Regions from separate parts of the Homo sapiens genome. Here region 1 is linked to region 2. A link means that fine-mapping ties the variant in region 2 to the expression of a gene that starts in the linked region. Tissue or cell type: cerebellum. Region 2 holds a variant in brackets; the other region holds the start of a gene. All regions are shown on one strand. Distances are between the middles of the regions. Region 1 holds the start of WFDC1 (WAP four-disulfide core domain 1). Region 2 overlaps ATP2C2 (ATPase secretory pathway Ca2+ transporting 2).

What was found. PIP is the estimated chance that this variant, and not a neighbour inherited with it, causes the effect.
Region 1: it holds the start of WFDC1, and the variant in region 2 is fine-mapped to the expression of WFDC1 in cerebellum (GTEx, PIP 0.99).

What each region holds. Positions count from the first base shown.
Region 1 is chr16:84,292,185-84,297,485 of GRCh38, reverse strand. WFDC1 (WAP four-disulfide core domain 1) reads right to left here and starts at 2,608. Exons shown (of 7, transcript NM_021197.4): 1 at 2,371-2,608. The coding sequence starts at 2,514. LOC124903734 reads right to left here. Exons shown (of 6, transcript XM_047435022.1): 4 at 4,936-4,987; 5 at 3,851-3,969; 6 at 2,648-3,153. The coding sequence ends at 2,648.
Region 2 is chr16:84,388,551-84,393,858 of GRCh38, reverse strand. All of the region lies in intron 1 of ATP2C2 (ATPase secretory pathway Ca2+ transporting 2), which reads right to left. Among named protein-coding and RNA genes, the nearest start is that of ATP2C2, 23 kb to the right of the region's middle. The variant T/C (reference allele first, on the strand shown) is at 2,251.

The DNA of each region.
Region 1 (5,301 bases), 96 kb after region 2:
GCCGCCACACCCAGCTAATTTTGTATTTTTAGTAGAGATGGGGTTTCACCATGTTGGTCAGGCTGGTCTTGAACTCCTGACCTCAGGTGATCCACCCGCCTCGGCCTCCCAAAGTGCTGGGATTACAGGCATGAGCCACCGTGCCTGGCTGGCACAGTTGTTCTGCATAAACCTCACCTATGTCTAGGCGCTGAGGAAGGAGGCCAATATCTGTTGATAACCAGGGAAAGTTTCAATTCAGCGAGGAGCCAATTCAAAGCACTTGCATCCTGACCAGTGGTGGCTACAAGTGAATCAGCTCCTGCAGCCCACCCAGGCCTGTGTTTTAGAGACTCCCCCAAATCCCCCGCGCATATCAACCCTGACCCTCCTATGTGGATGTCACAGTGCTGGCTCCTATGACATCTTGGGACATGGTGGAGATAAAATCAGATGACATATTGGCAATCTCTCTATGGTTGTAGAACCAAAGTGCTACTAACTACAGTTGAGGGTTAAATCATCCTGTTGCACCAGAGAAGAGCATGGAGGAGTCAATAAAATCTGAGAAGAGTCTCTCACCCCTCCTCAATGCCTCCCCTCTGGCCAGGTCTGGTCTCCCAAGCAGCTCTTAGATGCACCACTTCTGCCTGTGAGCCTCGGCTCATGCTGAGCCTTCTTCCAGGAATTTCCTTCCTCCTCCTAATTCCTAATCCTTCCCCAAGATCCAGTCAAGGTCTCCACCTCCTCCAGGAAGCCTTAGGTGACTACACCATCTCACATGAGCTTTCCCTTCTCCAAGCGCCTCATCATGTCACTCTACTACTCTTTCCACTTCTCGAAGTCCTCCTGTCTCCCGCCACGAGCATGTGCCGAACATGGAGAATATGAGCCCTGGAGGCCCAGATTTGTCTCAATACAGTTTCAGGCACCCCACTATGCCTGGGGTCATTAATCATTCTCCCTTCCCTCTTCTCCAGCTGGCAAACTCCTATTTATCCTTTAAAGCCACAGGTCCACTGTCCCCAACCCTAAAAACCCTGTCTGACTCTCCTGGGGAAGAGCTGCACACGCATCCCGTGCTACCACTGCAGCCGCTCATAATTCACCCACAAGAATGTACCAGGCGTCAACTTAATGGCAGGCACCAGGGGCACACATTAGTGAAACAGAACCCTGCCCTACCCCAAGGAACCTACATGCTACCCTGTTAGGCAACACCAAACAAAGTCACAATTATTTGATTGAAAGCTGCCAAGATGCACTGCCAGCTTGCTATGTTGCAAAGACGTTCTACATACTGAGACATTCAATCCTCACACAGGTGCTGTGGGTGCCAGCATTACCTTCTTGAGCCCTCTGTGTGCTGATATCGTCCTGGCTCACTCCGTCCCTGCGGATCTGTGATCTCTGGGGGGTGGGAGGAACCAAAAATGATAGCCTCCTCCACCCCATTCTCTCTCCTAGTTCCCTTCCTGCTTTATTGCTTCCTCAGCACTTGCAATCTGCACATACTAATAAATGAGATCTCTCTCATTTATTCTTTGCTGCCCCCAGCCCCCCATTGAGTTCCCCAGGCAGAGATGTGAGGCCTGTATCCCCACAGCCTAGGACAGTACCTGGTAAACAGTGGCGACCCAGACATAGTTGTGTGAAGAAATGCATCCCTCTGTCTTTTGCAGATGAGATTGCTGGGGTTCAGAGACGTCAAGCAGCTTGCCTGAGAGAAGCCACGCAGCTAATGAGCAGCAGAGCCCGATTCACACCCAGACATCTGGCCCCAGGGCATGTGTTTCTTGCCACTCACTGCCTCATGCCTTCTCTTTGTACTGCCATCGTTTGTCACCCAACTGCCTCTGCACCTCGGCCACGCCACCCTTGAGGATGGGGGCTGGTACCTCCTTTATCTTGTATCCACAGGACCCCACAGAGTGCCTTCCCCAGAGCGGTTTCTGCTAAATTCTGTTTAACAGAGTGTATTCATTCTGTTTGCTGAATGAATAAACAACCACATGAATGCATAAGTGTATTTCACAAACATTTGGTACTGATCAGGGAGACGGAATGCTCCGTTTAAATCCTGGGGTTCCGAAATGAGATGCTGTCTTTCAGGAGCAAGCATACTTTTGTAACAAGGCAAAAGTAAGGCACGATTCTTTGGCACATTTGTGATGTGTCTTTTGCCTCTTGATTCACAGATAAGGGTCCTTTTTTGGGGGTGAGCCCCATCTGCCCACCACACAACTCAGACACACACGGATAGGAAGACGCCTGCCTTGCCACGTTTTGGGGGAGCACTTACAGGAGAAGGCAGTGTCTAGGGATCGCCTCTCCTCAAGGCTGACTCCCACCCACACAGGCTGCCCCAGCCTCCCCATCCCAGGCACTTACACGGGATTTCTCGGCCAGCCTCGCAGGCAATGCCCGTTTCCAGATATTCTTGGCAGAGCCGGCGTGGAGGAGAAGTAGCAAGAGGCACAGAGCCCGGATGATCTGCCTCCTGCAGCTGCCCGGCCCCACGCCGGTTAAAGGCATTTCCTCCCTGGGCAGCGACCTTCCAGACGCACACAGAAGAGGGGCCCCCCTCGCTGCGTGGGCCTGTGAGTGGGGACAGGAGCGTGCACAGTCTGCTGGACTTTCTTAGTTCCACCCAGCAGGGTCCCTCGGATCATGTGTCCGCGTCCAGCACATGCCCCTTCCTCGATGGTGGCTGGCCTGCCCGGTTATTTTTAGCTTGCCCTATAACATCTGGCCCCAGACGCTCCAACCAGGGCGTCTGCAGCCCAGGCAGCTCAGTGGGCGGTGGCAGCAGGAGGAGGGGGCACCGGCTTGCTTGGAGACGTGGCCGGGAGTGGCCTGTCACTCTCCACTCTCCATAATGAGCACTTCCTTGCAGGCTGGGGCGGTCTCCTCCCAAGGAGGTGTGCTTGACACAGGGCTCGGGGCTGGACATGCAGGGGAGTGCAGCCGGATGGGTGGGGGCTCGGCTGCTACCTTGTTCACATTTCGAGCTGGGCTGACAAACTATCTGCCTATAAAAGCTTCTTTGAAAGAGGCTGCTGGACTGGCACTGGCCAAGGGTGCAGCCATGAAGAGACGACTTCCACCCTTGCACCCGCCGGGGTCCTCCTGCCTGATGTGGGCATGTGGGTAGTTCCTCATAGCGTGTGTTTCCTGTGAGATTTAAAAGAAATTGAGCACATAAAGCATTTCACACACATAAGTGTGCTGTCACTGTCAGCCGGTGTATCTGCACATGTGCATTTATGTGTATGCGTGTGTGCACGTGGGTGTGCATGTGCACGTGTGTGTTTTACAGGAATGTAGCACAGCGGGCTCAACATTTCACAAACTTCATATTCCCTTGTCTGTTCTCAGCACTTCCAAGACAGATACTGGTTTTTTGTTTTGTTTTGTTTTTCGAGACGGGTCTTGCTCTGTCACCCACGCTGGAGTGCAGTGGTGTGATCACAGATCACTACAACCTCTGCCTCCCGGGTTCAAGCGATTCTCCTGTCTCGGCCTTCCAAGTAGCTGGGATAACAGGCATGTGCCACCATGCCTGGCTAATTTTTGTATTTTTAGTGGAGACTGGGTTTCACCATGCTGGCCAGGCTGGTCTCAAACTCCTGACCTTAAGTGATCTGCCCGCCTCAGCCTCCCAAAGTGCTGGTATTACAGGTGTGTGAGCCACCACACCCGGCCCCAAAACAGACACTGTTTTGATGCCCGCTTTACAGATGAGGAAACAGAGGGGGCTGCCTGAGGTCATGCAACAGCAGCAGAGAGGAGGCTGGAACCCAGGTAGGTCAGACCCTGTGGCACCCCCCTAGGCGAAGCAGAAGGGACCCAAGCACTAGGCTTGACGCACCTGCCTGATCCCAGTTCAGCCTCTGCGAGATGCTGGAAAGCCTCTTGCTCATGGTCCTCAGTTCTCTCATCTGTGAAATGGGCATGTGAAAGTCTCTGCCTCTTGAGATCGATGTGGGGCTACAGGAGAGGGTGCCAGCTGTGCCCAGCACTTGCACAGAGTGAGTGCTCCAGAAAGATTGGTTCCTCCCTCCCTGGGGACCCTCACCCCCCACCTCCTGGCCAGCACAGCCTTCAGAATGCCCTGGGCAGGTATCATCAACCCCTCTTGGCCTTTTAGTGAATGACAATAGTGGCAAACACATATAGTCTGTGTAGGTCGGGTACGGTGGCTCACACTTGTAATCCTAGCACTTAGGGAGGCAGAGGATGCCTTGAGCCCAGGAGTTCAAGACCAGTCTGGGCAACATAGTGAGACCTCATCTCTACAAAAAATACAAAATAAAAAAAGTAGCCCGGCGTGCTGATGCACACCTGTAGTCCCAGCTAATTGGGAGACTGAGATGGGAGGATCACCTAAGCGTGGGAGGTTGAGGCTGCAGTGAGCTGTGATGGCGCCACTGTACTCCAGCCTGGGTCACAGAGCAAGACCCTGTATCAAAAAAAAAAAACCTTAAAAGCCATACAGTCTGTGTGTTCGGCAATGTTTGAAGCACTTCCTGCATTTTAATGCTTTTAGGTCTCATATTAGCCTTATAAGCAGGTGCTGTCTAGGATCCCATGCACAGAGAGGTTAAGACACTTGCCCAGTGAGCAATGCAAAATTTAAGTTCACCATCAGAGTCCTGTAAACCCAGGAGCCCAAGCGTGAGAGTCTTTTTACATTTTAGACCCTAGATGCCTCCTTTGCCTCCCGCTAGGCCCAGCCCTGATCATTACCTTGCCCTAGATTCTAGAATATTCCTTCATTTCTTCATCCAGAAACTACTGGCTGAGCCCTTATGGGGGCATGGTCCAGCGTGCTCCACTCCCTCTTCTTTCAGCTTTATGGGACGCAGTCTCAATGCCCCTCCCTGCAGGGCAAGGCTGCTTATTTAGAAGCCAGGAGCCACCCACGGACATGATGGAGCTGCTACCCCTACTTACCAGGACGACCTGGAACAGGTCCTGCCCCATCTCTCTGCCTCTGTTTTCTCATCTGTAAAACAGGGGTATGGAGTCAGAACTTACTCGCAGGTTTGCCATGAGGCCCAGCTGCACTTAGGCGAGGATCTAGGCTCAGCACATGCTTGCTGTTAGGAGATGAGCGTTCTGAGGCACCGCCTCCTGGGCCTCCTCCACCCGCACCCTGTTCTCCAGGCAGAGCGGAACCTTGGCCCAGGTTCCATTTGAGAAACTTCCTGCTGCTTGGAACCTGGGGCCCTGCGCTCTCCTAAGGCAGCTAACGCCTCCCATGTGGTTCTTGCTCATCCTCCATCTCCACCTTCCCCTTAAAATGTAGGCGTTTCCCAT
Region 2 (5,308 bases):
AGCCATTTACAAGCTACAGGCAGGAACTCCGTCCACCACTTAGAAACCGTCCTCCTGACTCTCTCCTGGGTCCCACCTGTGTCGGTCACAGCCCCCTCCACCCCCACTCCCCCCACACCCATAGCCTCCCATCCACTGGCCTCCCATCCTCTATCCTCCTCCCCTCTTTGCTGGCTCCTCCCATAAACATCTCAGCATGGGTTTCCACTTTAAACATAACCTCTTTTCTGGGCCTTGCATTGGAAATACACCTGCTCCTTCCTCATTTGCCAACATCGAGCTTTTAGAAGGAGTGTCTATACTTGCTGTCTCTATCTTTTCATTTCCTATCCACTTCTCAACCGACTTCAGCCAGATCTCCAGGTCATTTCGGTGTTTCAAGGCCACCGGGACATAGCCCTGGACCCAATACATTGTAAGTGAGGGCTTGCTCTGCCTCAGTCCAGTCTCGTGACAGTCAGGAAACAGAGTCCCTGGGTTGGTGACTGAGCTCGTGGACGCTGCCACTCCTCGCCCTGCATTTGGGAGACTCCTACCTGGGATGCTTACCTGGGCACCCCCCTCATCTCCTTAAGAATGCATAGGGGCCCGGGGGCCTAATCTGCCCCGGGTTGATTCCAATCACACAGCTCCATAATCTAAATGGCACTTAATGTATCCTTTGTTGAAAACAGGATTGTCCACTCTGTTTCCAGAAACTACAGACTCTGGTACGGCCCCCATCCCTCTACCCAACCCCAAACACACACTCACTTCTTCTCTCCAAGTGGGCCCGTGCCCGCTGCTGATCAGGACATTGCCATGACCCAGAATGGCCCACCTTGAAGCTGAGGCACTCAAAAACTGGAAACAAACTCAGGGTAAATCGTGAGGAAGGTTGATCAGCCATGATGCACCTACGCTGTCAGGCAGCCAAACACATCTCCTGAGTTGCACCAAGCCTCCATTCTAGGCCCACCCACCAGTTGACAGGAAATACTGGAGATAATAGACACGTTGAATGACACCATGGGGACATGATCACTAGACTGTGGGAACTGTAGGACACACAGCCCGGCCTCCCCAGCATGTAAACTACAACAAAAACACAAGAATGGGCCGGGCGCAGTGGCTCACGCCCGTAATCCCAGCACTTTGAGAGGCCAAGGCAGGCAGATCACCTGAAGTCAGCAGTTCGAGACCAGCCTTGTCAACATGGTGAAAGCCCATCTCTACTAAAAATATAAGAATTAGCCGGGCGTGGTGGCGGGCACCTGTAATCCCAGCTACTCAGGAGGCTAAGGTAGGAGAATCACTTGAACTCAGGAGGCAGAGGTTGCAGTGAGCTGAGATCACGCCACTGCACTCCAGCCTGGGCAACAAGAGCAGAATTCCATCTCAAAACGAAAAACACAAGGATGAAACGTGCAGACGCAGAGAACCATCAGAGACCCCAGCCAAGTGCAGGCTGGGACCTCACTTGAGTCCTGATTTGAATAAACCAGCGTGAAGCAGTGTTTAGGAGCCCAAGGGAACCTCAATATTGGCCAATATTTGATTTTCTCTAATTGTTAATATTTTATGATATGATAATGGTAATTGTGATATTTTAAAGAGTTCTTCTCTTTAGCCATAGATATGCAGAAATATTTATAGATGAAATGCTAGGAAGCCTGAGATTTGTGTCAAAACAATCTGGGGTAGACAGGAGTCAAGATTGGCTCCCCTCATTGGCACTGGGTAACAGAGTCATGTGGGCTCATTCCATTATTCTGTCTATTTCTGCATATGATTGGAATTCTCCAATACAAAATACAAAATTAAATAGTATAAAATTAAAGAGAAAAGAGGTGTTATATGATTTGACCTAAGGAGACGTCACTGATATGTCATCAAATTAAAAAAAAAACCTTTTGCAGAACAATCGTCGTAATATAATCCTAGTTTTGTTTTAAAAAAAAAAAGAGGAAGGAAGGAAAGATGAAGGGAGGGGAGGGAACGGGAGTCACATAAAAGAACTTGGAAACAGTTTCAATTCAACTTTGTGTGTGAGTTTCCCATGGCTGCTTGGTCTCCACGGCTGTAACAAACAACCAACACAAACTCGGTGGCTTAAAACAACCGAAATTTGTTCTCTCAGTTCTGGAAGCTAAAACTCTGAAACCAAGATGCTGGCAGGGCCACGTTCCCATTGAACCCTGCAGGCAAGATCTTTTCTTCCTCTCCCAGTTTCTGGCGGTGGCTGACAATCTTCCGCGTTCTTGGCATGTG[T/C]ACGTATCACAGCAGTCTCTGCCTCTGCCAGCACATGGCTATATTCCCAAGCGTCTCTGTCTGCTTTTCTTATAAAGACCCCAGTCATTGGGTTAGGGCCCACACAACTCCAGTGTGACCTCATTTTAATTTGACTGCATGGATAAAGACCCTATTTGCAAATAAGGTTGCATTCACAGGTACCAGGGGTTAGGGCTTCAACATGTTTTTGGGAGGACACGCCTTGACCATAACAGCATGTATGTGCGTCCACAGAAGATGCGAGAGATGGCAGTAGCTGCCCCGGGGCTGTGGGGCTGAAGGGTCCGAGGCTGTAGCTTCTTGTTACTTTGTAGACATCAGTCCACTGTGAATCGCAAGTGTTCCTTTTGTAATGAGAGTGGCGCATCCTGGTAAAGGTCAGAGAGTGTCCCTAATTCTCCCTCTCCATCACAGGTGATTTAGGCAGAACCAAACCTTCCCTTCTTCTTCTTCTTTTTTTTTTTTTTTTTTTTTGAGTCTGAGTCTCACTCTGTCACCCAGGCTGGAGTGCAGCAGTGTGATCTCGGCTCACTGCAACCTCTGCCCCCAGGGCTCAAGCCATTCTCCTGCCTCACCCACTCGAGTAGCTGGGATTACAGGTGCCCACCACCACGCCGGGCTAATTTTTGTATTTTTAGTAGAGACGGGGTTTGAACATGTTGGCCGGGCTGGTCTCAAACTCCTGACCTCAGGTGATCCGCCCACCTCGGCCTCCCAAAGTACTGGGATTACAGGCGTGAGCCACCGCGCCCGGCCCCCTTTTCTTTTGTGTTTCCCTTTTTAAAGCTTTTTATAAGATGAAATCCACATAACAAAAAATTAACTGTTTTAGAGCATGCAGTTCAGTGCATCTAGTACCTTTGCAATGTTGTGCAGGCACCACGTGGAGCTCATCCCCAAACACTTTCACCGCCCGCCAGAGGAAAATCCTGTGCCCAGGAAGCAGGCACTCCCCACGCCCTTTCCAGCCTCCGGAACGACTCATCTGCTTCCTGTCTCTATGGACGTCACGGTCCCGCCTACTTCACATCCATCTTCTGTGTCTGTGCCTCCTTTGGAACCCCCAAGATGTTATTTGCCTGCTGCAGATAGACCCACGCGGGCGACGGTGAGCGCAGCCTCCCTAGCCCCAAGGAAACGGCCTAGAAGAGAAAGGTTTCCAAGAGAAGCTGCACCCAACAAGCGCAGCTCAGGACTGACGTTTAACCTACCAGAGGCTCCCGAGGGGACCACGAAGTGCACGTATGGCCCTTGCTGAAAGGTGAGTTGGAGCTGTGAGCTCACTCCAGAGCAAGGGAGCCAGCGGCACCTCCGGGCGAACAGCCTCCCTCAGTCCAGCCCCGCTGTGGCGCCCTCCCGTCCAGCCCCGGGATTCGGTTCATTGCGAACTTGGACTGCGTTAGACCCTAATGATCTTCCCTGTTAGAGGGCTTATGCAGACATGCATTGCTTCAACATATTTGACCAAAGCCTAGCCCGTGCCTCAGTTTCCTCCCCTGGAATGTGGGGGGCTAAGGGTATAACAGCCGGGGTCCACAGGGCTGCCGTGGGATAAAGGAAAGTGAGACTGGACATGGTGGCTCAGGCCTGTAATCCCAGCACTTTGGGAGACTGAGGTGGGTGGATCATTAGAGGTCAGGAGTTCGAAAGCAGCCTGGCCAACATGGTGAAACCCTGTCTCTACTAAAAATACAAAAAAGTTAGCCAAACGTGATAGCACATGCCTGTAGTCCCAGCTACTCGGGAGGCTGAGGCAGGAGAACTGCTTGGACCCAGGAGGCAGAGGTTGAAGTGAGCGGAGATAGCGCCACCGTACTCCAGCCTGGGTGACAGAGCTAAACTCCATCTCAAAAAAAAAAAAAAAAAAGGAAACAGTGAGAGTGAAGTTCCCAGCACAGAGCCCAGCACCAGGGAGCACTGAGGGCCTTAGGGTGACAGCGGTGACCAGAGGTGGGGACAGCAGGAGTCCTCGTCCTTAGAGGACACCAAGGGGCCCGAAGAGGGCTGCCGCGTTTAAGAAACGAAAATACAGATGCCAGTTACCTTTGCACTCCAGATAAACACCAGATGATTTTCCAGTATACACGAGTACCGCATGGGACAAGCGTGCACTTATTGTTTGAAATTCAACCATGACTGTGTGTCATGTGTAAATCTGACGACACCAGAGGCATGAACAAGCCGAGAGATGCTCAAAACTCGCGTGGTGGTCACGCCCTCCTGGGGTGCAGCTAACAACGAAGGAGATGGGCGGGCCCCAGTGCAGATCGCGGGGAATCTAGAAAGGCACCCAGGAATTGTGAGAAAGCAGTTGAGAGAGGTACTGGAATGAGGGGCCTTCTGGGCTGAGGGAAGAACAGGCATGAAGGTGCTGAGAAGAACAAGAAAACGGCTCATGTGGGAATCCCAAATGCCTTAGGTTGTGGAAAGCACTTGGCCCCTGGGGGTTTCAGAGAAAGAGAAGAGGCAGAGAAAGAACCCTGGGCCTAGTGAATCCTCCAGCCCCAATCCTTCAAGAATTTCACAATATAGGCCGGGCGCGGTGGCTCATGCCTGTAATCCCAGCACTTTGGGTGGATCACGAGGTCAAGAGATTGAGACCATCCTGGGTAACATGGTGAAACCCCATCTCTACTAAAAATACAAAAATTAGCCGAGCATGGTGGCGCCCACCTGTAGCCCCAGCTACTCAGGAGGCTGAGGCAGGAGAATCGCTTGAACCCAGGAGGCGGAGGTAGCAGTGAGCCAAGATTGCACCACTGCACTCTAGCCTGGCAACAGAGCGAGACTCCATCTCAAAAAACAAAAACAGAAATAAAACAAAACAAAAAAAGAATTTCACAATATAGGGCACGTAATTATTGGGATCGATGCCTTTGGAGAGAATCAATGCAAGAGTCAGAATGACACAAGAACAAAACAATCGAGTGGGCTTCCTGACAAGGGTGACATTGGAGACACACACCCAAATAAGCCACACTCAGGCAGATGCTTCCTTCTTTCCAAGGCTTCTCTATCCTTCTCTCCCAAGGCACAG